Linked DNA regions of Homo sapiens. The protein of the gene in region 4 interacts with the protein of the main gene of each other region in a biochemical or structural test. Each region holds a gene or a part of one and is shown on either strand. Other genes may lie near its edges.

Region 1 (7,059 bases), on a different chromosome or scaffold from region 4:
CCTCGGGGCTGGCCAGGTCCATGGTGGGCTTGATGAACTCAGGGGTCAGGGGGTCGCTTGCCAGGTGGTCACGGGGTCCCGGACTCGGTGCTGGTGTCCCATATTGGGCTTGGATACAGGGCATCTCTGGAGAGAGAGGAGACCCCAGGGAGGGAAAGGAGAGTCAGTGGGACAAGCCTATAGCCTTGTCTCAAAGTATTTGGGCCCCAGAGCAGCAAGGTGGCAGGAATCCCAGCCTAAAGATGAGACAGAGGCACCGGGACCAGAGCACCCAGGAATCCTGACCCCTGGCCTGAGTACCATCTCGACCTAGGTGCCACAAAGCCCCTGGGCAGCGGCCCAGCATGAGTGGGCTCCATCAGAAGGCCAGCCACACCCTAGTCAGCCTGGGAACCCTAGGGGAGGCATACAGCCAGCATTTCTCTGCTAGAACAGGGGGAAGCTGTGTTCCTCCAGCCCCCTGCCCCTCCCCCATGGGGAAGGCATGGTGGGGGCCGGGAGAAGGGTGAGTGGGAGAGGCAGCCCAGCAAAGCCTCAGCCCAGCTCCCAGGAGCAGCTCCCTGGTTGTTTCGCCAACCAGGCACTTCCTGGGAATACTCCCAGGCCTCTGCAAAGCCCCTTTTCTCCTCCCCTCGCAGTGCCTAGGAAGAAGGACATCGTGAAAATGGAAGAGGAGCTGGAAGTGAAAGCCCACCTGCCTAAGAAGGCAGCCTAATGCAGAGGCCCTAGCCTGTCCCCCATTTCCACCCCAACCCTGCACACTGAGCAAAGGCAGCAGATCCCAAACCCACCCCAATCCTGCCATCTGGGGCTGGGAAGCCACTCTGCACTGCTCGAGATGCTCCCAGAAGCAAAGAGGAAGGGAACCTAGGCCTCCTCATCGGTAACCTGGCTCCAGACCTTTAAAGGCCATTTGCTGGGGACAGGGCAAGGGGGGAGGAAGGAGACCACAGCCCCCTGGACTCTCAGGAGAATGGACAACAGTACCTAAAAAGAATGTTCTGCTGCCCCCAGTTATCTTAATAAGAGAACTCTGAGAGTCCAGCAGAAGACTTAAGGAGAAGCCTGCTGGTGGGTGGGTGGAAGACATTCTGCCCCTGCCTGGGTCCCTCCACTAAAGCAGGGTCTGTGCCCTGAAGAATCCAGAGGCTCAGGCAAAGGGGGTTACACAGCCCCAGTCCCGAGGAGCCTGAAGAGAGCCTGAACAGAGATAGCATCATTCAGGCAGATCCTTACATTCACAGAATGGTCAAAAAATAATGCAGAGGAGGCTCCAGGACAGTCTCCCTCCCAACCTACACACCTGGGGTCTGCGTAACTCTGGCCTCACCAGTCAATGAGGGAAGCTGGAGAAGAAATCAAGCAGGAACAGAGTACCATAATCAAGGGGTGCAGTGATGGGGGCAAAGGCTGTCACCACCTCCTGGCCAAGAGCCCAGGAAGTCCTCTCTGGTCCTAGCCTTCCTTCTAACTCCACAGGCCCTGAACAGGGCACCTCCACCCCTAGCCTGACAACCAAGACAACAGAGACCCTTGTAGCTCAGGCCCCACACACCCAGTGGCACCAGTCCACAGGCATGCAGCACCCTGCGAGAGGTGAGGGTGGCCACATCTGCCTGCACTAGGACAGCCTGGCCAGGGATGGGCTGGGGGTGAAGGAGGAAAGACAGCAGTTGGGCAGAACTGGGCGCTTGTTCCTGCCTTATTCAAATCCTGTTTCTCCACCTGGACGTCCCACATCCGGATCAACCCCCATCAGTCCCTCCCCCTTCATGCAGGTTCTTAACAACACAAGATATGGACCTACATCTAGCCTCACAGGAGGGGGGAGCAGTCCCACAGGAGGAGGAAGAGGCGGGGTTGAAGGAGGCAGTGGGGAGAATCCGGCTTCAGGCAGGTCTTGGCAACAATGTGGCTTGCACCTGTTCTGCTGAACAAGCCTCAGGCTGCACCCTACCTGTAAGATCCAACAGAGACTACTGGGGGAGGGGGCATAGGGATGATCAGCATCTGGAGCTGGAATGGTTGGGAGGTATCCTCTAGGCAGCACCGCCCCAAGACTCCAACACTGGCAACTTCTATCCAGGATCCCCAAGGACAAGGGTTTCCACCTCTGTCTCTCTTTCTCTCTCTCTCTCTCTCTCTCTCACACACACACACACACACACACACACACACACACACGTGATCCAAGCCCCAGCGAAATCAATTCTCCCTGTGCTTACAGAGACCCTGCCCCGACCCCAAGAAGCCTCCTTTATTCAATACACAGCAAGCAGCCCTCCACAGGTCAGCCACCAAGCCAGTCACTTCCTTCAATGATCCGGAGGCTTCCTAACGCACCTCAGACAGAAAGTTCAGGGTGGGGAACCCCTGCCAACTCAGCCACAGCCTCTAAAGTGTTAAGAAAACAACCGGGACACTGGGAGGGAGCTGACAGGCTGGGAGGAAGGAGGGCCTTTTGGAAATCCAATCCCAGTTAGAATCGTACGGATCCCAGCAGCGCCAAAGCTCTGTGTACCTGTTCCCCCACGGTGCTGTGACCCCCATCCACACCCACCCAAGTTCAGAGCACCGTGCGCCCAGTTGGGCACCCTAGGAGACTGAACTAAGGCCAGCCGCCTGCTGGACAAGTCCCTACTCCCGGCGCCAACCCCAACCCCCTACAGCTTCCACTTTGCAGGTAGTCAACCTCCCCTACCTCCTACCCCGCACCCAGTAGTTTCCAGTCTGACCTGGGTTCTCATCCCGTTGTGCTACAGCTGCACACTACACCTACCCTCTTGCATGCCGGCCCTACAACATCCTCTCTGCCCGCGCGTACACCCATCTCCTTCATGCACCGCTCCTAAAAACAGATGCACGTTCCCCGAAGGGAACCTACCCGGCCGGCTCCCGCTGCCCCTGCCCGGACTGGCGCCCCGAGTCTCAGCCTGGTCCCTGGTCCCGCGTGCGCTCCCGAAGTTCTTCTGTGCACTCCCCCAAGTTTCGTAGCCTCCGCCACTGGGACTCCCCGGCCGAGCCCGACCCTCCTCTTAAGCGCTCCGTGACGCACGGGGAGGGGCGGGGGCGCCACTGACGCAGGCCGCCCGTCGAGCTTTGGCCATACAAGGGCGCGGGGGGCGGTGCGGTTCCGGCGGGAGGCGGCCAGGGGGAGGTGCGGCCCGGGGAGCCCGAGGGGGCGGGGCGAGGAGGGGGGGCCTGGAATGTCTGCGCGCGTGACGCACGCGGGGTTCCATTGACGCAGGGAGCGCGGATTGTTTGATCTATAAATAGGCTCCTCGCGCCCGCCGCGCCCGCTAAAAATAGCAGCTCCCAGGCCCACTAGGCTCCCCGCACCGGACTCGGGTCCCAGCTGGGGGCCCCCAGGTCCAGAATAACCAGCGGGAGGGCCAGAGCCCGAGAAGGGGCGCTGTAGAGACGCGGCCGCGGGGCTTCCCCGGATGAGGATCTCCTCACTCTCCAGTTGCTCCCGGGAGCCAACCGCGCCCGGTCCCTCCGGCTCCCTCCGAGCCTAGCCCCGCCTTTACACCTTCCCAAGCCCTTCCTGGAGCCCTAGGGTGTCGCTGCTGCCGCTGCTGGGCGGTCAGGACAGGCCGCGGGCTGAGGCGGGCAATTCGGACACACCCTGGGGAGCCTGCGCCCTCACCTCAGCCCTAGGCGCAGCTAGTGCACAGGACGCGGCTTCCCCAGCAGGGTCTCAGGCTGAGAGGCTGCCCCTGAGACGTCAGTTAGAGCCCTCGCTTAGTCCCTCCAGGCAGTCTCCCTACACAGGACCTTCCCGAGGGCAGGCGTTGGCCAGGCCCAAGCTCGGCCAACAGCTCTGGCTCCGCTCCACAAGCTGAACTTGGTTTCGCACCGTCCCCTCCCCAGCCCCTTACAGGGGGAGTGCACCCTAGTTGGGAAATTACCGAATTTCAGAACCGGGTGGAGCCTGAGAAATCTTTTCAAACTTGTGCCAACTCTTCCTCATTTTATAAACAAACAGGCTCAGAGAAATAATGGCACTTGCTGAAGGTCACACAGCCAGGTGGTGGCACACTGGGTTGGAACCCAGGGCCACAGACTGCATCTCTAGGGATCTCTCCACGCCTCTTATCAATACCCCTCCCCCTGTCCACATCAGGGAGCACCGGCCCTCCCAGCCTACCTCCAGCACCTGTGGGGAGGCAGCTCTGACCAGTTATCACCTGCCCGGTGGAGTGAGGAACAGCCCGCCAGGGCCCTGCTGGGCACAGACCAGGCTTCAGCCACCTGGAGCCTTCCCTGGTTTGGCCGTCACCCTTCCACCCTGATCTCTCCTGAGCCTGGGGAGCCCTCACGGAAAAGTAAGAGAAGAGGGAAGGGCAAAAAAACAAAAACAAGGAAAAGAGAGCCCTGCCACCCCACTGCGACCCCCATCCATTCCCCTTCTCCCATGTAAGTCAATATCCATGAGTTTCTGCTTCCATTGAGCCTGCACCCACCCACCCAGTTCTCAACTCATCTGGTCACCCCATAGGACTTTCTCTGCCCCGGAGGCTCTGCCGGCCCGATTTCCACCCTCAACCCCCATCACAGTTTTCCCACACCCTTGTCTCCAGCCCCCGCTTCTGCCCACTCAAAGGTCCCACAAGCACCTCAAATTTCATCTGTTCCAGACAGAACTTGTCATTTCTGCACCCCCTGCCTGCCACCTAATCTCTGCTCCTGGCTCCTGATGCCCCATTTGCAACTTTTCACTGTTTCCTGAAATTCTTTTTTGGAACATCTCTTGGGTCCTTTCCTCTCCCCGTTTTTGTTTTGTTTTGTTGTCTTTGAGACAAGGTCTTGTTCTGTTGCCCAGCCTAGAATGCAGTGGCATGATTATGGCTTACTGCAGCCTGGACCTCCCAGGCTCAAGCCTCTTGCCTTGGCTTCCCAAAGTGCTGGGATTATAGGCATGAGCCACTGCACTCAGCCTCTCCCGCTTTCCTACTGCCAGCCACAGCCCATGCCTCACTGGTCCCACAGACCAACTGCCTGCGCCCAGTGACCACTCCTCCTTTCCCACACCCATGAAGACCATCCATTAGCCTGCCTGTCTCCTCTTTCTAAAGCCTCACTGTCCACCACAGATGGAGCAGTCTTCATACACAGTTGACCCTTGAACAACACGTTTGAACTGTGTAGGTCCACTCATATGGGGATTTGGGGATTTTTTTTCAATCCAACATGGATCCAAAAACCCACATATACAGAGGGCCGACTTTTAGTATCTACAGGTTCCACAGGGCCAACAGTGGGACTTGAGTATTCGCAGTACAAGTTGGGGTCCTGGAGCCAACCCCCTTCATAAACCAAGGGGTGACTGTAATGCTGATGGCATTCAGTCATCTGGTCAGAACCTGCCAGAACCCTCCATCCCAGCATACAGTCTCAACGTGAATGCATCTGCAGAGAGCTCTGGGTTGCTCCAAACCATCTTCCTTCAAGGCCACTGGTTGAATGTGAAGTGTGGGCAGGATGATGCCAATTGGACCCATCCAGGATCCCTACCTCATTTCAGGCAAAGTTTTGCTTTTCTTTCTCTTAGGCTTTTCCGTAAGATTTTGCTTAGATTTTGTGGAATCCTTTTGTGGAAAATGACTCCACAGCTTAAAAAAAAAAAAGGTTTAAAACCACATATAGAATTCAAGTCCTCCCATTTTGCAGATTAGGAGTCAAGGGTTCCAAGAGGAGCTACACTTTGCTCAGGAGCACACAGCAAGTCTTGCTGGGTGGAACTGATCCCAGCTGTGTCACAGGCTGACTTCCTCACCTAGCACCCACTTTGCCCCAGGATGTCTCCCTCCACCCCAGCAGGGCCTTCCCTAGAAAATAAAACTAACTTTTTTTTTTAAGACGGAGTCTCGCTCTGTCACCCAGGCTGGAGTGCAGTGGCACTATCTCGGCTCACTGCAAGCTCCGCCTCCCGGGTTCACGCCATTCTCCTGCCTCAGCCTCCCGAGTCACTGGGACTACAGGTGCCTGCCACCACGCCAGCTAATTTTTTTGTATTTTTAGCAGAGACGGGGTTTCACTGTGTTAGCCAGGATGGTCTTGATCTCCTGACCTTGTGATCTGCCCGCCTTGGCCTCCCAAAGTGCTGGGATTACAGGCATGAGCCACTGTACCCGGCCAAAATAAAACCAATTTTAATAGGTAGCAAAAGATGATCAGCCAAGCCATTGTTCTTCCTGCCAACCAGCAAGAACAAGTGCGTTATCTGTGGCTTGACCAGTCTGTGCTCAATCTCAGCCTTGCTAGCTCTTTTTTTGTTTTTTGTTTTTGTTTTGTTTTGTTTTTGAGATGGTGCTGTCGCCCAGGCTAGAGTGAAGTGGTGCGATCTCGGCTCACTGCAAGCTCCGCCTCCCAGGTTCATGCCATTCTCCTGCCTCAGCCTCCTGAGTAGCTGGGACGACAGGTGCCTGCCACCACACCCAGCTAATTTTTTGTATTTTTAGTAGAGACGGGGTTTCACCGTGTTAACCAGGATAGTCTCGATCTCCTGACCTCGTGATCCACCCGCCTTGGCCTCCCAAAGTGCTGGGATTACAGGCGTGAGCCACCGCCCTCGGCCCAGCCTTGCTAGCTCTTTGAGAGTTGAACCAGCCTCAAGCTCAGGCACCCTCCTCTCCTCCTCACAACTTGGCATTTGTAAAAAGTGGCACAGACCATCCTGTGGGGTAGGCCCACCCATAAGCCCAAGGAAAACTGAGTGTGGTGAGGAGCTGTCCAGGTCCCTGGTCTGAATCTCAGCATCTAGCCTCCAGATCTGGGCCTGCAGCCCAGGCCCCACCTCCCCAAGCTGCTGCAGGTTATGGAGGCTGCAGTCCTGCTGCCCCAAAGCCTGGAGGAGGATAAGGAACTACAGCTGCCACCTGGTCATGCTTGCAGGGGTGGGAGATGGTGGGGGTGCTCAACACACCACATTCTGAAAATAAGTAAATAAGGAGAAAAAGGCAAAGTCCCTCTGTGGAAACACAGCTGGGGCCACCAATGCAGGTTCCCGTGTGGAGCACCTAGCCTAAGATAAAGGCGAGAGAGGTGAAAGGGGCT
Region 2 (7,142 bases), on a different chromosome or scaffold from region 4:
TTCTCCTGTTTTTCAGTTGTGCAACTTTACCCAACAAAGTCCTTCGACTTATCAGCAATTTGGATAGTACTAGATGCCTGAATAAGTTGTTTTGCCCATTGCCCAAAAATCACTTCAAGGAATTCAATGAGGCTTCTTGTTTTGTTCAGTACAGTGTTGTGTAATGAGCTAAAAAAACGAACAGAGTGAGAGGCAAGAAGGGAGTAATTAAATATGGCAATATCTAAAAGCTTTTCAGAAAGCTCACCCTATCCCACACAAAATACTTTCTATCTAGCAGATGTCCCAAAGCAACATTTTGATGTCCCATGCAGGCTGAGTGTACTTCCACCTCTGTAAGAGCTGATGTCAGCCAAGCAGGAACCGACTGGCCAAAGACATCAAACTCCTCATAGGTCTGTCAGACACCAAGATAAACAATGACATATGGCTCAGCCCCCGCCCTCGCCCCTTTTTTTTTTTGAGACAGAGTCTTGCTCTGTCACCCAGGCTGGAGTGCAGTGGCGTGATCTCGGCTCACTGCAACCTCTGCCTCCCGGATTCAAGCGATTCTCCTGCCTCAGCCGCCTGAATAGCTGGGATTACAGGCGCCCAACACCAAGCCAGGCTAATTTTTGTATTTTCAGTAGAGAGGGGGTTGTTCTCTCACCATGTTGGCCAGGCTGGTCTCGAACTCCTGACCTCAAGTGATCCACTCGCTTTGGCCTCCCAAAGTGCTAGGATGACAGGTGTGAGCCATCGTGCCCTGCCTGGCTCAGCCCTTTTTGTTGTTGTTGTTAAAGGGTCAAAGGAAGATGAAAATCCCTTTGCTTTCAGTGAAATCACGTACACCTACCAAGTATCTTCACTCATAAGAAAACTGTACAATTAAGAAACAATACTAAAAAGAAACAGAAAGGTTGGCCACCTTTGTCAATTAGGTAGAATAACACACTGACAAAATAAGACACACACACCAGCAGGAGGTTCTGCACCACTGAAAAGAAGCCGGTGCGATGGCTCAAGCCTGTAATCCCAGCACTTTGGGAGGCCCAGGCGGGCGGATGACGTGAGGTCAGGAGTTTGAGACCAGCCTGGCCAACATGGTGAGAGACCAACAACCCCCTCTCTACTGAAAATACAAAAATTAGCCTAGCTTGGTGTCGGGCGCCTGTAATCCCAGCTACATGGCGAAACTTCGTCTCTACTAAAAATACAAAAATTAGCTGGGCGGGTGGCAGGCACCTGTAGTCCCAGCTACTCGGGAGGCTGAGGCAGAAGAATCGCTTGAACCTGGGAGGCGGAGGTTGTAGACAGAGCGAGACTCTACCTCAAAAAAAAAAAAAAAAAAAAAAAAATGTCCTCAAAAGAGCAGTAGACAGGCTGAACATGAGAACCTCTGCTTTGCTCCCAGCCGGTTGTGAACTTGGACAAGGCCATTTACTCTAGACCTGTTTCTCTACAGGCAAACAACAGGAGGCAGTTAGCTAGCTCTGAAGTTTCTTCCCATTCTAAAATCTAAGACAGTATGCTAAACATGGGCAAATAACTTAAAATTGCATAGGAATATGTGATACAAGTAACGTTTAAAGACTCATACATTCATCCTAATTTACTGTGGGAAATAATATAACCATCTTACATTCTGGAATATATGACACTTAAAGGTTTTGGGAATTAACCCATCAAAACCTGGAGCAGCAGCATCCATCTTAAAATCTCCAAACTCCATCGCTACCTGGTGAGGGCTGAAACTCTCTTCCCTAAAATAATCTTCAGGCCACACTGGAAGCACCTCCCTCTTACGAAAGATACTGCATGACCTTTAAGCATCCAAGTGGTTTTGAAAAGACTTCATCTGGCCATATGCTCACTGCTCCCATTACCTCTTTCCCAAGAGTTGAATTAAAGAAAGGTTAGGCAAGAACCCTTCCAAGAAGGCTCCCGGTTCTCACGACTAGGAACAATCTGAGGACAAGATGTCTGGGCAGCGGAATGTTATGAAAAGACCCTGGCCTGGGTTGTCTATCAGCCTCGTCCGTTAACTTTCAACTGCCCGAGTGCGTTTTTAATTCCGTTTCTTTAAATGCATGGCCCCAGACTCCCTGACGTGTGCAATCTTGGGTGGTTCAGGAGGCTGCTCTCAGCTTTACTGGGCGCACAACCCATCGCTTTAAAAAAAAAAAAATCACTTGGGCAACTTCGAGAAATCTAATAAAAAAATAAAAAAGGAAAAAGGAGAAGCAAGGCACAGCCTCTCACCCCACACGTGACTGAAGCCAACCCTAGACGAGCAAATGAATTTTCCTGACAAACGTGTGGCAACAAAGGAATGCTCGCTGGGGGGCTCCCGCGCCCGCCAGACGCTGCCCGCCCGCGAGCCCCGCACACCTGATCCCCGACACGTCCCGCGGCAGCCGCCCGCCCCGCCCCGCTCCCGCGCGTCCATCCCCCGGCGTCCCCGCCGCACGTCCCCATCCCGGCCCACGTCCCCTCCGCGGCCCGCTCCGCCCACCCGGCCTCCCCGCCCCCCAGGCCCGCCCCCGCCCCGCCCCGCCCGGCTCCGCTGCTGGGGACCACCCCCCGCACCAGGGGGATCCGCGCTACCCGCGCCGCTCCCGGACCGCGAGCCCAAACGGCCCCGGGCCCAAGACCCCAGGAGGCAACAGAGAGGCCCGGAGCAAGGCAGGCGCCCCTCCTCTTGACAGGGGACGGGAGCTGTCAGTCACCTGGACATCCCATGCCTGAGCCAATGAGCTGCCTTCTCCTCCCGCCTCCCGCGCCGCGCCGGTGGCGGCGGCCGGGGCTGCTCCTCCTCCCCCATCCCCTTCACAGAGCCTCGGCCCCGCACTCACTGTTGAGGCCGGCCGGCGGGGGCAGAGACTGCTCATTTTCCTCGCAGTTGTTGTTGTTGTTGTGCAGGGGCGGCGGCGGCTCGACTAGGTGGGACGACATTGTCGGACAGCTGGCAGGACTGCGGCAGCAGCAGGACCGTCTCCGGCACTCAGGCAGCAACACAACAAGCCGAGTCCGCCGCCCCCTTTTCTGCGCCTGCGCCGTCCCTCCCCTGCCCCTGACGTCAGGGCCCGCCCAGGCCACGTGATGACAACACAACAAGCGACCGGACGGGGCAGGGGCGCTCCCCTGCGGGCCCCGGACGTGGAGACGCTCGAGTCAGGCTGACGCGCGCGCCGGGAACGAACTCTTGCGTGTGACTTGGGATGACCGGATGGGATGAGTGATGCCAGTGGCAGTGGGAGAGAGGATGAGGAGAAACGGAATGAGGAAGTGCGCTCCTGTGTTCGCGCCCGTGCCTCCTCTCACACAGGCTCCACAGTGCTTCACCCAGCCCTGCGCACGCATCTGTTTTCTACCTCTTAGGACTCACTTCTGCAATAGGTGTCTTGGGGACACAAAGGAATCCCCAAACCCAGGTGCCTCCACGTGTAAACTCCAAATAAAGCTGCTGAAACATCAACACTCCATACGGGAAACAAGGGAAGGCCGCCCCCAAATTTAATTGTTACAGAATTTTTAAAATGTCGATTACAAACACACCATCATTCTGAAAAAAAGAGAAAGAAGAAAGGGGAAGAAAGAAAAAAGAAAAATTCAGGAAAACAGAGAGAAGAAAGTACTCACCCAAATCCCATCGACTAATCGATTTCTGGGACATGACGTGGGAAGCCGTTTATCCTGTACGTGGATGACATTAAACTATGTTCCTGAGCACACCTCCTACTTCACATCTCCATGTCTTCGTCCAGTCTCCTTGGTCTGATTTATGAGTGACATATGTTTCTCGCAGTCTCTAACTTGTCTTTTAATTTGTTTTTTTCACTCTGTAGAAGCTTAAGGTTTTCATGTAATCAGATTTATCATTCTTACATGGCTTGGGGAGACAGTCACACCAAGATTACTAATCTATAATTCCCTTATAACTTTTTCTAATTTTCTTATAGGCTTAACTTTACATTTAGAGCTCTAATCCATCTGAAATTTATTTTCCATATGCTGTAAATTATTTAACTTCAATTCTTCCCAATTTTGTAGCCCATTGACCTAATAATATTAATTTTAAGCCATCCTTTCTACACTGATTTGAAATTGCACCTTTGTCACTCTCTGAATGACCACAAAAATGTGAGTCTGTTTCAGGGCTATCTGCAATACCTCTGTTAGATAACTATTAAAGTTTCTCTTCCTTTGTCTTTTTCAGATGTTAATGGCTAGTTACTCTTCAGATGAACTTAAAAATGGACTTGTCCAAGATTGACCTTGTGTTGGTAATTATTGAAGCTATGTAATACATTAAAGTATTCCTCTAATTTTTTAATATATTTGAAAAAGTCCATGCTAAAAGGTTTTTTTTAAGGATTGATTTGTCAAATCCCTTTGCAAATTCTTTTAAGATTTTGGTCAGAAATGAACTCTATTAATAGATTGAGTGCTGTTTCCGGTCATACCCGGAAGCAGGAGTTCAAGCCGCAGCTGGTAGGGATTGGCGGCTGCTGGCCATCTGAGTTTTATTAAAACTGCTCGCCGCGAAGCCAGTCTTCAGCCAGAATGTCCAGCAGAAACAACAACAAGCTGCCCAGCAACCTGACTGCAGTTACAGAATCTGATGAAGCGAGACCCACCACCCTCCATCTAGGAGTTTCTACAGCAGTATAATCACTACACATCCAATGTGGAGATTTTCAAATTGCAACCATATAAACCCGGTAAAGAACTAGCAGAGCTGGTGGTGTTTATGGCACAGAACGTCCTAAATATGTGCATCTGAATAATAGGAGAGAAAGAGAGAAACTTCAGAAGAGCCTTTGCTTTGTTATAGATTAGTTACTGCTACCCAGGGTATCTAAGTAATTTTCCTCAAGTGGTGAAAGATCTTCTGTCCTGTAATCATACTGTATTGGATCCAGATCTTCGAATGACATTTTGCAAAGCTTTGATCTTGCTGAGAAATAAGAATCTCATCAATCCATCAAGCCTGCTAGAACTCTTCTTTGAACTTCTCTGTTGCCATGATAAGCTTCTGCAAAAGACTTCATACACATATATCGTGACTGATATCAAGAATATAAATGCAAAACACAAGAATAAAGTGGATGTAGTATTGTAAAATTTCATGTATACCATGTTGAGAGATAGCAATGCAACTGCAGCCAAGATGTCTTTAGATGTTATGATTGAACTCTACAGAAGGAACATCTGGAATGATACCAAAACTGTCAATGTTATCACAACTGCATGTTTCTCTTAGGTCACCAAGATATTAGTTGCTGCTTTGACATTCTTTCTTGGAAAAGATGAAGATGAAAAACAGGCCAGTGACTCCGAATCTGAGGATGACGGACCAACAGCAAGAGACCTGCTAGCACAGTATGCTACAGGGAACAAAGTTCCCAAAACAAGAAAAAGTTGGAAAAGGCAATGAAAGTGCTCAAGAAACAAAAGAAGAAGAAAAAACCAGAGGTGTTTAACTTTTTAGCCGTTCACTTGATTCATGATCCCCAAGATTTTGCAGAAAAACTACTAAAGCAGCTTGAGTGCTGTAAGGAGAGGTTGGAAGTGAAGATGATGCTCATGAACCTCATCTCAGATTGGTGGGAATTCATAAGCTCTTCCTCTTCAATTTCTATCACTTTTTGCGAAGGTTTCTGCAGCCCCACCAAAGAGAAGTAACAAAGAACCTTCTGTTTGCTGCACAAGCATCTCATCACCTAGTACACCCAGCGATTATTCAATCATTGCTTATGACTGTGGCCAACAATTTTGTTAACGACAAGAACTCTGGAGAAGCCATGACAATAGGAATCAATGCTGTAAAAGAGACAACAGCTCAGTGTCCTCTGGCCATGACTGAAAAGCTTCTCCAAGACCTGGCTCAGTATAAAACACACAAGGATAATAATGTAATGATGTCTGCTAGAACTTTGATTCGGCTCTTCCGAACACTGAATCCTCAGATGCTGCAGAAGAAATTCTGGGGTAAGCCTACAGAAGCCTCCATAGAAGCAAGAGTACAAGAATATGGAGAATTAGATGCTAAAGGTTACATTCCAGGAGCAGAAGTTCTGGAAGTTGAGAAAGAGGAGAGTGCTGAAAATGATGAAGATGGATGGGAAAGTACCAGTCTCAGTGAGGAGGAGGATGCCGATGGCGAATGGGTTGATGTGCAACACTCTTCCAATGAAGAACAGCAAGAAATTTCCAAGAAGCTGAACACCATGCCCATGGAGGAGCAGAAAGCCAAAACTGCAGCCGTCAGCACCAGTCGAGTTTTAAGTTAGGAAGACTTCCAGAAAATCCGCATGGCGCAAATGAGAAAAGAACTTGACGCTGTCCCCGGGAAATCCCAGAAGAGGAAATATATTGAAATCGACAGTGATGAAGAGCCGAGGGGTGAATTACTTTCTCTTCCGGACATTGAACGCCTTCATAAAAAGCCAAAATCTGACAAAGAGACAAGACTAGCAACTGCAATGGCTGGAAAGACAGACCGAAAAGAATTTGTGAGGAAGAAAACCAAAGTGAATCCATTTTCCAGTTCAAAAAGTAAAGAGAAGAAAAAACAGAAGAACTTTATGATGATGTGGTATAGCCAGAATGTCTGGTCAGAAAATAAGCGTTCCTTCTGAGAAAAACAGTTGGCGCTGCGAGATGCCTTTTGAAAAGAGAAAAAGAATGAAGTAACTTCCCAGAAAGTTTTCCATTCCAAGAAGAATGCTAAGTTTGTGTCATTACTCTGAAAATTGGTAAATCAAGCATGTTTGTTTACATTAAAAAGTCCAGAAGCACTATATTATGAAAACTGCTGAAAATGTGGCAGCAATTTGGTGTTTTTATTTTGGGGACAGCTAATGATGGGAAATGTTAATGTAAATAGTGGTGGTAGTGTAATATCATTTATCATTCATGCAAAAAAAAGTATTGAGTGCCTATTAATTGTCACTGTAGATACAAAATGACTGAGTTGTAACTACCCCTTCACTCAAGGCATTGACAGCTTAGTTGTGGGGGTGGACACAGACGTGTATTTACAGTGCAGTGTAAATAGTTCTCTAGTAGAGGTAGGTCCACATTTCTATGCAGACACTGAGGCCTTATGGACTAACTCTGTGGGGATGGGGGTTATATATTCCTGTAAAACAAAGCAA
Region 3 (7,023 bases), on a different chromosome or scaffold from region 4:
ATGTAAGGCGAAGTGGCAGTAGCTGAAGGGGCCTGAGCAGAGCTGGTGCTGGGAGGGGCCGGCATGGACAGGAAGAAGAGGAGGAGATTTAAATATCCAGGGCTGAAAGCCAGTTAATAGTTCTCCTTCATCTGTTTTTGTATTTTGTGTAGCATCTCCTGCATCCGCCGCAGCTGGAATAGGCACAGGCATCAAAATGGGGACTTTTGGAGAGTCCTTTAGTATTGGGAAAGTGCCCCAAATTTCTAATCCCTTAAGCCAGAACCTTGGTAGCCGTGAGGTGTGATGGAGACTCTGGACAGAACCACCTATTGACCTATCCAGGACCCAAATATGCACCAGAGCCAGGGATCTTTCTATTACCAAACAAAGAGATACCAACGTTGGTGATCAAACAGGAGACCTCCCCTATACCCCATACTGCTCTCACCTCCTCATCTTTCTCTCGGATAAGCTTCTCAGTTTCTGGATCTGTCCCTGGTGGGACAGCAGGGATGGGGAAGTCGGTACCACTTTCCCGAGTCAGTTTGCTAAAGGGAGAAAAGGGTTGATAAGGCGAGGAGGACCCCAGCACCCGCTTAGATTGAGCCCAGGGCCTATAGAAGAACAAAAGTAGGGCTTGGTCTCACCCAAGGCTAGGCTTGGGATCTCCCCCTGCCAGCTTTGTCCTGGCTTCTGGTCATACTTGCGATTCCGTTCCTTCACCACCAGGCGGGTCATGCTCTGGATGCACTGTGCCCGGTAGTTCTCATAATGTGTCTCCCGTGTCACATCCTTCAGGTCCTGCATGTGGGTACGTACCAGCATTGTCCTCAGCTTCACAAAGTCGCAGTGCCCTGGGTTTTCCACTGCATAGCAAGGCTAGGGGTCAGCCAGAGGCATAGGTAGGGGAGAGCCACTGAGGGCAAGGAGATACCCTGGTCACAGGCTCAGTGCTTTACCTTCCACGATGCCCCAGGGGTAGAGTCGACCCCGAACTCGCCGCCCTCTGGCCTCTACTACAGTGTTGCTGCCAATTACTGCAAATGGGATGCTTTCCTGGAAGAGGTTAGGGGTGCCTGTCAGCACCCTCTGTTCTCACCTCTTTCTTTCCACCTGTATCGTCATCTTCTCTGCTTCATTCTAGGAAGCCAGGGTCCTTTCCCACCCTGATAGCCTGAATATAGAATTCTACTCCCTTTTTCTACCCGGAAGAAATAAGATAGGAATGGGATGCCCTAGAGTGGCCCCACCTTTAGGGCTTGGTCCTGCAATTTGAAGTCCTCATCCTCATCAGAGTCACAGTCTGGGAATTGATAGATCTTGATTCCAAAATGCTCAATCTCCTCCCGGATCTGACAAACAGATGAGGGGCCCACAGTTCTGGGGACCACATCCTTTCTAGAAGCCCACCTGATCCCCTCCCACCACCAGCTTCCCTCACTTTGCGTTTCTTGTGGTCCACTTCGGGAGGTGTCAGTGTGTCTGCCTTAGCCAGGATAGGCACGATGTTGACCCGCTGATGCAGGGCCTTCATGAATTCAACATCCAATGGCCGGAGCCTGGGGAACAGGAACCTGTGACCACCTGCTAGTGGCAGCCCTGCCCCTGGTGCTCTTGGCCTGTTCCCTTGACAGCACCCGGTGGTGCCAGGAGCCTCAGGCTTGGACCATACCCATGGCCGAAGGGTGAGATGAAGTACAGGCAGCAGTGCACCCTGTTGTCTTGGATGTTCTTTCGGTTCAGGCCACTCTCGTCTCGGAAATACTGCTCAAACTGCTGATCAATGTATTCTGCCACAGGCTTCCAGCTGGGGCAGGGACAGACAAGCAGAGAAACTGTGAGAGTGGGAGCCACCTAGTGAGCTCTGGGACTACAGAGAAGTAGCCCACTCCCTGAGCAGTGTTTTTAAGACACTGTTATTCCCTGGCTTGCTTTACTAAATCTTTAGAGAAATTCCTGAATGGGGTGGGGTGTATCTCACATGTCCTGATACAAAATTAGACTGAGTACTCAGGCAAGTTTAATAAATACTAGCTTGATGAGAGGGAAAGGGCCCAGGTGATCAAACAAAGCAGTAAGAATAGGCTGGGCACGGTGGCTTACCCCTGTAATCCCAACACTTTGGGAGGCCGAGGCGGGTGGATCACTTAAGGTCAGGAGTTTGAGACCACCCTGACCAACATGGTGAAACCCTGTCTCCACTAAAAATACAAAAATTAGCTGGGCGTGGTGGTGTGCACCTGAGTAGTCCCAGCTACTCAGGAGTCCGAGGCAGGAGAATCACTTGAACCCAGGAGGCAGAGGTTGCAGTGAGCCAAGATCATACCACTCCAGCCTGGGTGATGGAGCCAGACTGTCACAAAAAAAAAAAAAAAAAGAAGAAGAAGAAGAAAAAAAGAATAGCAAGGTGGCTGCAGGCAAATACCAACTGGAAGCCAGGGAAACCCTAAGTCAGGTTTCCAGTGTAACCTCAGAGCCTCTTTGCTCATGTGTTTCTACCCTTTCCTCTACCTCTCCAAACCCACTCCATCCTTCAAGGCCCTAAGAACCATCTCTTCCACGAAGTCTCCTTTGACTATACCAATACACACTGCTCTCCCCTTCTCTTCACTACAAAGCAAAACAAATAAATAAATAAATTTCCCCAAGAACCTCAATTTTCATATCCTTTGCTCTTCTATTATCTTGTTTAATCCTCACTGCCCTGACAGGTGGACATTATGCATTATGATCATCATCACTCTCATTTCATACATGAAGAAACTAAATCCAGAGCAGCTAACAGATTTGCTCCAGGCCAGGTGTGGTAGTTCACGCCTGTAATCCTAGCACTTTAGGAGGCCAAGGTAGGCTGATCACTTGAGCCCAGGAGTTCAAGACCAGACTGGGCAACATAGCGAGACCCCCATCTCTACAAAAAATACAAAAAAGTTAGCTTGGTGTGGTGGCATACACCTGTAGTACCAGCTACTTGGGAGGTTGAGGTGGGAAGATAACCTGAGCCCGGGGAGCCCCGGGAGGTGGTTGATCAGGCCACTGCACTCTAGCCTGGGCAACAGAGTGAGAACCAGTCTCAAAAAAAAAAAAAAAAGAAAGGAGGAAGGAGAGGGAAAGGAAAAGGACTTTCTGTAGGTCATTTAGCTAGTAAATTCTCTACCCACCTGAACCCCTACAGCTCAGTGCACTTGCCACTACACATTGCCTGACCCATTTACTAATTTAAGTTGCTATCTGATTGAAACATGTTAGAGAACTGCCCCCACCTCCCCTGCTTCCCTGTTGCCACTTGACTATAAGCCTCTCAGGGATAGGAATCATTCATGCTTGTTCTGAATCCCTTAAAATGTCCACCACAGGCTGGACATCTAGTATGTGCTCACATTCTAGCTGATTTGATGCTCTGCCGTTGCCATGTTGAAATTCTTAAAAATTTTGAACACGGGGCCCTACATTTTCATTTGCACTGGGCCCAACAAATTATGTTGCTGGTCCTGCAATTACCATTGTTAAAATTCCTGAGTATGCTGTAAATAGCCCTTTACACTTTTCAGTGCGCATGCATCATGTTGGGTGATGTTCAAATCAATTGGAGAGGTGGTAAGGGCTGGTATATTTTAATTAAATAAGTGTCTGACAAAATGAATATATATGGAGGTACACTTTAAACTGTGAGGTGCCTGGCAAATGAAATTATTAGTATTATGGAAGGTAAGAGACAGTAGGTAAATTGATTGAAGGAGATCATTTGCTCAAGATCATGAAGTTACTAAATGCCAATCAAGATTTGAACTCTCTGTCTAGGGCTCTTAGCACTGCCTGCCTAACTTCTTCATCAAAGCTACCACCTTTTCTCCTGTCAATCTCATCCATTTCCCTCTTCATCTACTCACTTAGGTCTGACCATTACCTAAGCTGGAGGTAACGGTCAGACCTACTGACCATTAGCTGGAGGGGGGTCCCTCCAGTGCCTGAAAAATAAAAAAGCCCGAATGATAGGGGGTTGTGGTAAATCCAGCTTTTCTTTCGGCAGGTAGCCTAGAGGGTGCCTGGAGTTTAAACAAAGTTCCACCATTTTTCCCTTTTGCCTATTCTTCCTCACCTTTACCCTCCCTCCATACATGCCCAGCCCTTCAACAAGATTGTGTGCGGCACCTAAAATGTTGCTAGTGAAAGGAAAAAGGGTGACAGTTTATTCGGCATCTACTATGTAATCAACTCTGTGCTACATGTTTTCACACTTCACATGTGTTTGTTTTTAAGGCTCTTCTTTCTTATCTTTTTTTTTTTTTTTTTGGAAGGTTTCGCTTTGTCTTCTAGGCTATAGTGCAGTAGTGCAATCATGGCTCACTGCAGCCTCAACCTCCTGAGCTCAAGTGATTCTCCTGCCTCACCCTCCCCAGTAGCTGAGACTACAGGCCTATGCCACCATGCCCAGCTAATTTTTAAAACTTTTTGTAGAGATGGGATCTTACTATGTTGCCCAGGCTGGCCTTGAACTCCTGGCCTCAAGTGATACTTCCGCCTCAGCCTCTTCTTTCTTATGTCCCTACCCCATTATAGAATCATAGGGCAGAATTGGAAGGAACATTAAAAATCATCTATTCCAATCCTTTCCCTCTTACTTTATAAAGGAGGAGATGGCTGTCCAGTAAGGGAAGTCACATGCTCAAGGTCATAGACCGCTTCCTCCTGATAAGTATGGATATATCTGGGCCTACGTGTGTACCTGTGTATGGAGAAGGGTGGCTCAGGGGCAGCTGGGATTGTGCTTACTCAGACATACCACTCTGTGTTGTTGACTGCATCCCCAAAACCTGGTGTGTCCACAATGGTGAGCCGCAGCCTCACACCCTTCTCTTCTATGTCCACTGCATGCTTAGTGATCTCCACAGTTTGCATGATCCTCTCTGGAGAAAGGGGAAACTGAGGCCAGGGCAAGGGCAGGGACCTGCCCAGTCAGGATGAACCGCCCACCCCAACCAGCCTTGTTGCTCAGACTGCCTAATCCACACTGCCCCCTTCTCCACTCCCAAGCTGTCTGGGGGACTGTTCTCTGGGAACCAGCAAGGAGTACATTTCCCAACACAGGAAATGCCGGTGGCTGTTGGCTCTGGCCCCAGCCTCTTCTCTGCTCCCGGTTTTTTTCTTGGATTCCTGGAATCCTTGGGGGTCAGAGACTCATTCAGAGAGCAAGACTCTGGTCTCTGCCCTGCTTCAGCACCCAAATCTTTAGGGAGCTGGCTGGTGGGCTGCCAGGCAGTTAGGCCTATGGAGAGCTGCTGTCAGTCTCTCTAGGAGGCCATGGTTTCCTGCATGTGGGGGAGAGCCCCATCCCCCAGACTCTGGAGTGAGTTTAATTTCCCAAGGCAAGTCTGCCTGATTGTCCTCTCCTTTCCTTACCTTCAGCACCAAGAAGTTTCCGGTCCCGGTACAGATCAGTGAGGAAGAGGCTATTGACAAGTGTGGATTTGCCCAGGCCAGACTCTCCTGAGAGGAGAGAGGACAGAGGCACCAAATCAGAAGGTAAGATCTATAGCCAAAAAGCAACTCCACTGGATCAAGGTTTAGGGGGGACTGCTTTCTTATCTAATTGGAACTAGACTAACCAAACTATAGCATTTTAGAGCTGGGAGGAAGCACAGAGATTGGCTTGGGGGAGCAAGAGATTGCCCAGGGTCACACAAAAAGAGGCAAATGCTAGGAAACTGTTGGTCAGATGCTCTTTGCAACCAATTCGAACCCCCACCCCCACCCCACCCCACATACATACACTCTCACAGGCCAATGACTCCTGGCTGTTTTGCAAAACAGTACAGCCACTCGCTGCTTGCTCCCTGCGACCTATACTCCCTTCCCACTCACGGACACACACACCATCCCCACCTGAAACACACCCTGCCCAACCCAGCCCTGCCCCTTTTTTACCTGCCACCATGAGGGTAAAGTCAAAGCCTTTCTTCACGGACTTTCGGTGGACTTGGTTGGGGAGGGTTGCAAAGCCCACATACTCCTTGTCATCCTAGTAGACAGGAAGGCAGAATGCATCACGGTGAGGAGCCAAAGGGGCCCCGGCACCCAGCGCCAATCTTCTCTCCCTTTCAGGCCTTTGCCCCAGCCTTAAAAAAGCAGTGCCAGACTTCTGTGAGTTCCCATCTGAGGCCACCAGCTGGGCCTCCTGCCCTTGCTGAAACTGCAAATTTCCAGTGCCCTTGGGGGCAGATATCTTGGAGCTAGGGCTGACACAGGACTGAAATAGGTCCCAGATACACACACACACAAACACACACACACACACACACACACACACACACACACACACTCTGCTCCCTGCCCCCGGTCTTCCTGCAGCAGCCCACTGAAAGGCAAAGGCAGGGCTGGAGGCTCTACCTCAGAGGAATCATAGGGATCAAGCTTGCCCCATGGGCTGCGGGGCCTGGCAGATGGGCTGAGAGGGGCTGGGGCACAGAAGTACTGCTGGTTGTCAGAGGACTGGGGCCGCGAGGGGGGTCTGAACTCCAGGTCATCATCATAGAGGTCCGGGGCCTGGGGCCTTGGCTCCGGGACTTGGGGCCTGGATGCCCAGGTCTTAGCCTCTGGTGGGTGGCAGCTCGCATTTCCTGAGAAATCCTTCACGAACTTGCTCAGTTCTCCATCATCCGTGGTGTCCTCCAGGAAACGCTTGATCTGGGGGAAGCGGGGTGGGTAGAATAGATGGGTGGTGCCGGGAAGGGAGCCGGAAGGGAAGAATGAGGAAGGAGACAGAAGACAGGAGAAGGCAAGAGGGAAAGGGAAAGCACTTGTGGTTAGAAGAAAAAGAAACTGCAGCCAAGACAGAGGAAGTGCTCACCATCCCTCCCTCACCTGCTCACAAGCCTCCCCAATCCAATATGCCAGGAAGGGTCCCAGGGTCCAGGAAGAGCCCTGGGCACCCCCAGAGCCCTGGCAACTGCTCTTGGGAACTAAGGAACTCCAGTTCTGGTCTCCTTCTCAGCAGCATGTTTTTTGAGGCTGCCTTTCCTGGGGTTCTGGCCTAGCCAGGGA
Region 4 (7,023 bases):
TTCCAGAGGATTCTGTTTCTTACTCAGACAGAGCCAGTATTGGGAGTTGGGGGGTGCGTATCCAAAATATATGAATATACACAATCAGGGCTTAAGGTACTGGATGATATTGTATAAATTGCTAAAATGCTTTTCTCGGCACAATTGGTAGCTTAAAAAAATACTTTCCTATGATTTAAGGGCATTTTTCCCATCGCTGTCCTTCGGCGTGGAAATCTCAGTGGGTACTAGGTCCATCTGAAGTTCCCAACTCTTTTCCTCCCACCAGGTATGCATCATGTGAGTCATATGCAAAGAGTCTCTTCTTCAGGCCAGGGAGGCATGGACTTCCCCCCACAGGAACCCTCCCTCTGTTAATATCACAGCCCCCAGGGCAAAGAAATGCAAGTGAATGAACACCTTCTCCCCAGCCTCCAGCAGCCAGAAAGCCAGCTTCCCCAATGATCAGGTCCTTTTTCCATCCGTCTGCTCTTCAGATGGTGATCCGGCCAACAACATGGAAAGCGAATCTATGTTTACAGGCACAGAACATCCAGGTGGAGCCACACGAAGCGGTGCTTGGCAATTAGTGGTCGGATTTCCAAAGACAGGAGTTTTGATGGGACTGTCTTAAATAAATAAATCTTTTTTTCTTAATAATGTAAAAAATAAATGATATTTCCCTTTGGCAGTAAATAGCTGATTCGACGTTTTGCCTGAAGACTGTTAATTGTTGTGTGTGTGTGTGTCTGTCTGTGTGTGTGATGTTTATATGTGTGTTATTTTTTCTTAAACAGCCTGCAGCTTTGTTTCATGGTACATCACTGACAATGCATATTATTTCTACTGCTTTAGTGAACCTTTTGCATATTTGTTTGGGGCAGGCATGTTGACTTCACTTGTGGCCCAGATAGGCACCCAGGGTGATGCAAGCTCCCACCAGGGCCAAACTGAGCAGAGTCTTCAGAGACAGCCAGGAGAAATCAAACAGAGGCCGCATGCTGGGGCCGTACAGTTCCACAAAGGCATCCTGCAGTTGGGGGAGAGGAGGGAAGAAAAAGAAAGAGTATTAGAGAGAGAGCAGAGAATGCCACCCCACAGAGAAAGAGGCATCCTGCCAGGGCAGCCTGGGCACCTTCAGAAGGGTGAGAGGGGAAAAGGCAAATGCTCTTTGGAGGCCATGATTCAGAAACCACTGTTTTCATTAATTCAAGGCATATTTATTGAGACCCTCTTTACGTGCCAGCCATCTTAGAGATACAGCAGTGCATAAAATAGACTAAAAGTTCCTACTTCACGAAGCTTCCATTGAGTGGAACAGTATAGACAGCAATCAATATAAATTATCACATGGTGTAGGAGAGAGTGCTAAGGGCCGAGGAGAAAAACAGCAGAGGCAGTTAGAAAATATTAGAGGTTTTGCAATTTTAGCTAGCATGCCCATCCATAAAAGTAATAAAATCTAGCAATGATGATGACCGTCACACTCCTCGATTGAGTGTTGACATCTTATCAAATGTCTGACATGCATTATTTTAGTCTTTGTACCAAACTTTTTCTTTCTTTTTTTTTTTTTAGAGACAAGAGTCTTGCTCTGTTGCCCAGGCTGCAGTGCAGTGGTGCAATCATGACCCACTGCAGCCTCGAACTGTTGGACTCAAGAGTGATCCTCCTGCCTCCGCCTCCTGAGTACCTAGGATTACCATGCTTGGCTAATTTTTAAATTTTTTGTAGAGATAGGGTCTTACTATACTTTCCAGGCTGGTCTTGAACTCCTGGGCTCAAGTGAGTCTCCTGCCTCAGCCTCCCAAAGTTCTGGGATTAAAGGCATGCGCTTTCTCATCCAGCTAATTCTTTGTACCAATCTTATGAAGTTATTTTATTTGTTTCTGTTCTGAAGATGAAAAAGCTGAGAATCGCAGGGAATAAGAGACTTTTTAACAAGTGGCAGAGCCAGGCTTTGAACCCAGATAGAAACCAGCACCCTTCTCTCTGCTGATGCCCTGGCGTGGCTAACGGCAGCTCTATGAGAGCATTTGGTCAGTCAAGGGCTCAGTCAGTGGAGGGGCCAAGGGCGGCCTTGACTGGTGCAGTGCCAACCTCTAAGGTCAAGGTTCTCCTGGGGAAAGGGAGCTGTCAGGGGGTTTCTCTTGGGGGTGGCTAGACTGGACGACCACAACTCTGCATTTACTCAAATTGTGGATCTCACAAGGCAGGAGATCAGGGGTGTGTCACTGGATGTGCAGGTCCCTGAGAGACAAAAAGTGTCTCCCTTCCATTCCTATCTCTCCATCTCAAGTCGGGTCTGTAGTGTGTTGTAGCAAAGTCTACCCTCTGGATGGGCTTGGATTGAGCAAATCACCAATTGCTCATTTCCTAGATTTTGGGGAGATTATGTTTCACATTTGGGTCCAATGAGTATTTGGACAACTTTCTGAATGAATATTTGAATATATAAATCAGTAAATGAATTCTTTTTACTTCTGATTTATTCAGGATGAAGAAGAAAACAAGAATAGTTTCACATTATTCCCAACAACCCTGACTCAAAGCACACAGTTTTATTACAGGAAACAGTAACATACCATGACCCTGGACATCGCTGTTGGGAGGGGCTCCAACAGTGCACAGAGGGGTTCCCTTTCTCTGGGGCAAGGGCTGTAGCAGTGGGACCAGGGATTCTCTTTGTCTCCCTCATGCTGGGCATGGTTGTGGTGCACTATAGGTGCGTAGTAAATGTTTGTTCACTTAAGCTTTCTGAATACAATCATTGGTCTTTGGCTTAATGCTTTACCCAAATGCTTATGAATCTGTTTGAAATTACTCCTTCTATATGTAACAGCCTCTGAGAATCCTGAGGTAGTCTTGATGAGGATTTAAAGCATTGTTAGGGTAACTTTCCACATTATTAAATATAGATTTATACAATTATTTTCATGATATATAAAATGTGCCATACTTTAAAAAATTCATGTTTATAGTGTTTAAAACTTTTGCTATTATAAACAATATCATGATATATTTTTGTATATAAATTCTTGTCTATTTGTTCAGTTGCTTTTTTGAAACAAACTCCTAGAAGTGACCTCAGTTAACCAGTCATCAATATTGCTTCCAGACATCATGAAGGGCTTGCCTTGAGCCATCCTCACATTCTCATGGATTGCCCTCCAACCAATGCCACCTTTTACAAAAGGCAGGCAAGAATTTAGGGCGAGGGTCACACTGAGAGTGATCCTGTCCCCCAGGGGACATTTGGCAATGTTTGGAAGCATTTTTAGTGGTCATGATTTGGGGTGAGGGTGCTACTGGTATCTAGTGGGCAGAGGCCGCGGATGCTGTTCAACATCCCACAATGCACAGGGCAGCCCCCCAATGCTAACAGGGCCGAGGCTGAGAAACTCTGGTTTATAAGATGCTCTGTAATCACAGACCATAGAAGAACAGATGACCCATCCTGTGTGTCAACAGCATTGGTCAAATCAGCACAATCAGCTAGCCCAGACCAGCGACTGCTAACCCAGTGGGCCTTCTGCATCTTTGGAGGTCCTTGGTTAACTTTTACCAGGAGAGGGCGCAAGGGCTTTCTTCTTCTTTTTAAATATCTATTGTTAAACATTTCTAAATTTCAGTGTTAGAAAAGCGAGGCAATAGACGTACATAAAATGTGTGTTTAGTGCTCTTAGCACAGAGCTAAGGCACAATCATGATTGTCTGCCAAGATGCACACCCCTCTCCATATAAGCAGGGATCAGTGGGGCAGGAAGGAGTCAGGACTTCTCCACAAGCCAGAACTCTGCCTCTTCCAGGGAGCAACCCAAGACATCACAGACACGGCTGCAAATGTCAACTAGTCCTCCCATCCATGCTTCTCTCTCTGAGGGATGGGTAGGCTGAAACCCCCAATAGCCCAGCCAAAAGACACCCCAAATTTGTCAGGGCACTGGCAATAGGTTGTCTGCAATTTGGCTTGACATTGAGAAGGTCAGTGGCCGGGCTCTGAATCCCTTTAGTAATCAACAGAGTTTTGTGTGGCAAAATCTGAACCAGACTAAGCCCCTGATCATTTGTCCTGTCTGGACCTGAAGCCATCCTGGGAAACCGGAGGATGCAGGGACATACTCCAGCTGGCATTTTCTCCCAGTTGGTCTGGCACACAGTGCTGGAGAGCAGAAGAAATGCTGTCCCAAATATCCCCACCTCCTCAGAGCTGGAATAATTCCCTCTCACCACCCTCACCCCCACACAAATAACAGTGCTTCTCATGAACCTAACAGGCCATTTCTGATATGCATTACGTAGAACAATGTCATTTCTAGAGTGAGATGAGCTAAACTAGCAGCTCTTGGCCCAAAGCCTCAGCATAGAGATGCTGTTGCCATCCCAGGGGGCTGAGAAGGGCATGGGACTTGGAGGAGGAGTGTGGGTGAACCCTGGCTTTGATATTTTATTAGTTTATAACCTTCAGCAGATAACCCAGCCCCGAGCCTCATTTACTTCATCCATAGCCATAAAATTCATTATTGTGAAGATTAACGTAGGTCACTCAAAGCCATTTGTAAATTGGATACAGAAAGTGAGCTCGTGGCAGAACAAACACCTTGCTCTTGTCTGTCCTCTTGCAGACCTGCTCCGCACCTACTCAACCTGCCCTTCCCCCAAGAAGTTCTGCTGAGCCTGCCGTTTTGCAGAAGCAATTTCCTCTCTTAGCTTTCTGATCTGAGGATAGTCCGTAATTTCTATAGGAATTATGAATTAAAATGTATACATCCCGTGTTCTGGTCAAAGATGGGAAGTGATAATACAATGCCTACCTATCTGTCCTTCTTTACACATTATTAGAGTGTAGGGCTAGAGGGCAAGTCATTTAACCCCCTGGAGGTTGGAGCTGGCCTCTAAACTTTGCCCTTCTACAATTCCAAAGTGCAAAGGAGACCCTGCGGCTTCGGGACTAAAATGACCTGAAAGCTTCTTTCGTAGAAAGTCTTCCTGATTTTTCAAACATCCTGATTGGGGCGATTTCCGAAGTCTGTTTGAACAGTCTGTCATTATTTGTTTGAGTTTGAAAGCTGTTTTAAATAAACACATGCTCATTTTATGTATTAAAAGCAACAAAGAGGGAAAAAGAAAACCTGGGTCGTCATGTGATTCGGACAAAATCCCAGTCTATATATTTAGGAAGCTCTGTGTCCCTTGCTCATGTCAGGACTGGCAAGGGCTTACCCGACTTCACGGATCACAGGTTCACACGGAAAGGCTGGCACCGGCTCCTCCTATGAGGAGGAGATGGGCAGGGCCTCAGCTCTGGTGGCTCTGTCCACAGTGGCTTCCCCATAAATTTCCAATTCAGAGGCCACAGAGGATCTGAGTTCCACCCAGGGCTGGCCCAAGGGGACAGGATGGCTAAACTCCCAGCCGCAGCCTTGCTGCAGGTTTGGAACCAGGCCAGGTAGGTGTGGACGGGAACAGACCAGGGTCAAGACTCCTAAACTCAGCAAAGGTGTCCTCACCCCTCCGGGCCATGGAGCACTCCCACCTGGGAGGCAGCCATCCTCCAACATTTTCCTTTTCCGTTCAGAACCTTCAAGAATTTTTTTTTTTTTTTTTTTTTGAGATGGAGCCACTGTCACTCAGGCTGGAGTGCAGTGGCTCCCAGGTTCAAGCAATTCTTCTGCCTCAGCCTCCCGTGTAACTGGGACTACAGGTACCCTCTACTACGCCCGGCTAATTTTTGTATTTTTAGTAGAGAAAGGGTTTCATGTTGGCCAGGCTGGATTCAAACTCCTGGCCTCAAGTGATCCTCCCACCTTGGCCTCCCAAAGTGCTGGGATTACAGGCATGAGCCACCACCCCTGGTCCACTTCGAGAAATTTCACGTAAACCTAAAATGAGAATTTTTTTTAAAAAAGGTCAGATTGTCAAGAATGGAAGAGAAGGTTAATTCTAAGTGCTGAAAAGAATGGCATGCGGTTGGGGATATGGGCGGGGGTCCCAAAATAACCCTTATGCCCAGGTAAAGGTAAACATGGAGACCTTTTGAATTTGGTAATGCATATCAAAAGGCTTTTAAAAAGCTTTTGTTAGTAATTTCACTTCCAGTTATTTATTTTGGAAAAATAATAAAGTGCACAGATTATGTATAATAGCATAAACCTGGAAACAAATGTCTGAAAATAGATGACTGACAGCGCGTCCACATGATGGAGTGCTGTTCAGCATTAAAAGTCATACCCTATAGTTATTGGCAAGAAATTGTGTTCCTAAGGTCATATTGAGTAAAGCAGGACAAAACGGTCAGCAAAACACGATTCCACTTCTGTAAAAACCTAACATATACATGTGCGCGTTTACAAACAGAAAAAAATAATATAAAGGAAAACGCAAAGATGTTAACAGTGATTATCGTTGAAGGCAGAAGTAGGCATGAGGACATGGCATTTAAGAGGCTATTCTGATTTTTTTCCTTAGCTGTCTTTTCTAATTCAATACAAACATGTATATTACTATTTATGAAATATATTTCAATATATACTACATAGAATAATGTTACATTCTAAGTGCTTACTTAATCTGAAAAAAATCCAGACTCCATAATTTGACAGACAAAAATGCTGGGAGATGATGTCTAGTAGTGGGGAGACATGGGCTCCCAGGCAGCAGCCATGACCTAGAACCATGCAACAGGCCCCCGGTTAAGTGAGGGCCTCCTTAGACCCTGGCCCAGAAGAACTCTCATGAGCTCTGCCCCTCAGACCAATGCCTGCAATAAGAGGTTCAGGCCCCGAGCTCAGTGTGTGTTCTCAGCTCTCTATATACTGGGGAAATTTAATATGGCTTGGCTGGCTATAAGCAAATTCGAAATTCAGCTACATTCCACAGTCTTTGAGCTGACTATGCATGCAGACGTTATACAATCGAAGGGAATTCTAAGGGAGAAAAGCCACCCTGTCCCCAAAGAGCTTACACTCTAGAGAGAGGTAATGCCTCTATGTGCACATTTGAACTAAACTAAATCAATGGGTGCCGCCATTTTGTTCCTGCAGA

What was found.
Region 1: the proteins of BCL2 (region 4) and NR4A1 form a complex in vitro, tested with the Homo sapiens proteins (2 studies listed by BioGRID).
Region 2: the proteins of BCL2 (region 4) and BNIP3L form a complex in vitro, tested with the Homo sapiens proteins (one study listed by BioGRID and IntAct).
Region 3: the proteins of BCL2 (region 4) and SEPTIN4 interact in a test that uses a peptide from one of them, tested with the Homo sapiens proteins (one study listed by BioGRID).

Annotation. Positions count from the first base shown.
Region 1 is NC_000012.12:52,047,394-52,054,452, reverse strand, and holds the start of NR4A1 (nuclear receptor subfamily 4immunitygroup A member 1), read right to left. Parts: upstream 3,012-7,059; 5' UTR 2,885-3,011; exon of another isoform or gene 2,790-2,884; coding exon of another isoform or gene 2,780-2,789; intron 1,958-2,779; exon of another isoform or gene 1,808-1,957; intron 127-1,807; coding exon of another isoform or gene 125-126; coding exon 1-124. UniProt on the Homo sapiens protein: Orphan nuclear receptor. Binds the NGFI-B response element (NBRE) 5'-AAAGGTCA-3'. Binds 9-cis-retinoic acid outside of its ligand-binding (NR LBD) domain.
Region 2 is NC_000008.11:26,378,923-26,386,064, reverse strand, and holds the start of BNIP3L (BCL2/adenovirus E1B 19 kDa protein-interacting protein 3-like), read right to left. Parts: upstream 3,012-7,142; 5' UTR 2,935-3,011; coding exon 2,835-2,934; intron 1-2,834.
Region 3 is NC_000017.11:58,520,313-58,527,335, forward strand, and holds part of SEPTIN4 (septin-4), read right to left. Parts: intron 6,667-7,023; coding exon 6,370-6,666; exon of another isoform or gene 6,002-6,369; coding exon 5,908-6,001; intron 5,506-5,907; exon of another isoform or gene 5,470-5,505; coding exon 5,383-5,469; intron 4,890-5,382; coding exon 4,766-4,889; exon of another isoform or gene 4,756-4,765; intron 1,790-4,755; coding exon 1,655-1,789; coding exon of another isoform or gene 1,570-1,654; exon of another isoform or gene 1,542-1,569; coding exon 1,424-1,541; intron 1,335-1,423; coding exon 1,233-1,334; intron 1,039-1,232; coding exon 942-1,038; intron 849-941; coding exon 686-848; exon of another isoform or gene 531-685; coding exon 431-530; intron 174-430; coding exon 114-173; 3' UTR 1-113. UniProt on the Homo sapiens protein: Filament-forming cytoskeletal GTPase. Pro-apoptotic protein involved in LGR5-positive intestinal stem cell and Paneth cell expansion in the intestines, via its interaction with XIAP. May also play a role in the regulation of cell fate in the intestine.
Region 4 is NC_000018.10:63,127,751-63,134,773, forward strand, and holds part of BCL2 (apoptosis regulator Bcl-2), read right to left. Parts: intron 1,010-7,023; coding exon 875-1,009; 3' UTR 1-874. UniProt on the Homo sapiens protein: Suppresses apoptosis in a variety of cell systems including factor-dependent lymphohematopoietic and neural cells. Regulates cell death by controlling the mitochondrial membrane permeability. Appears to function in a feedback loop system with caspases.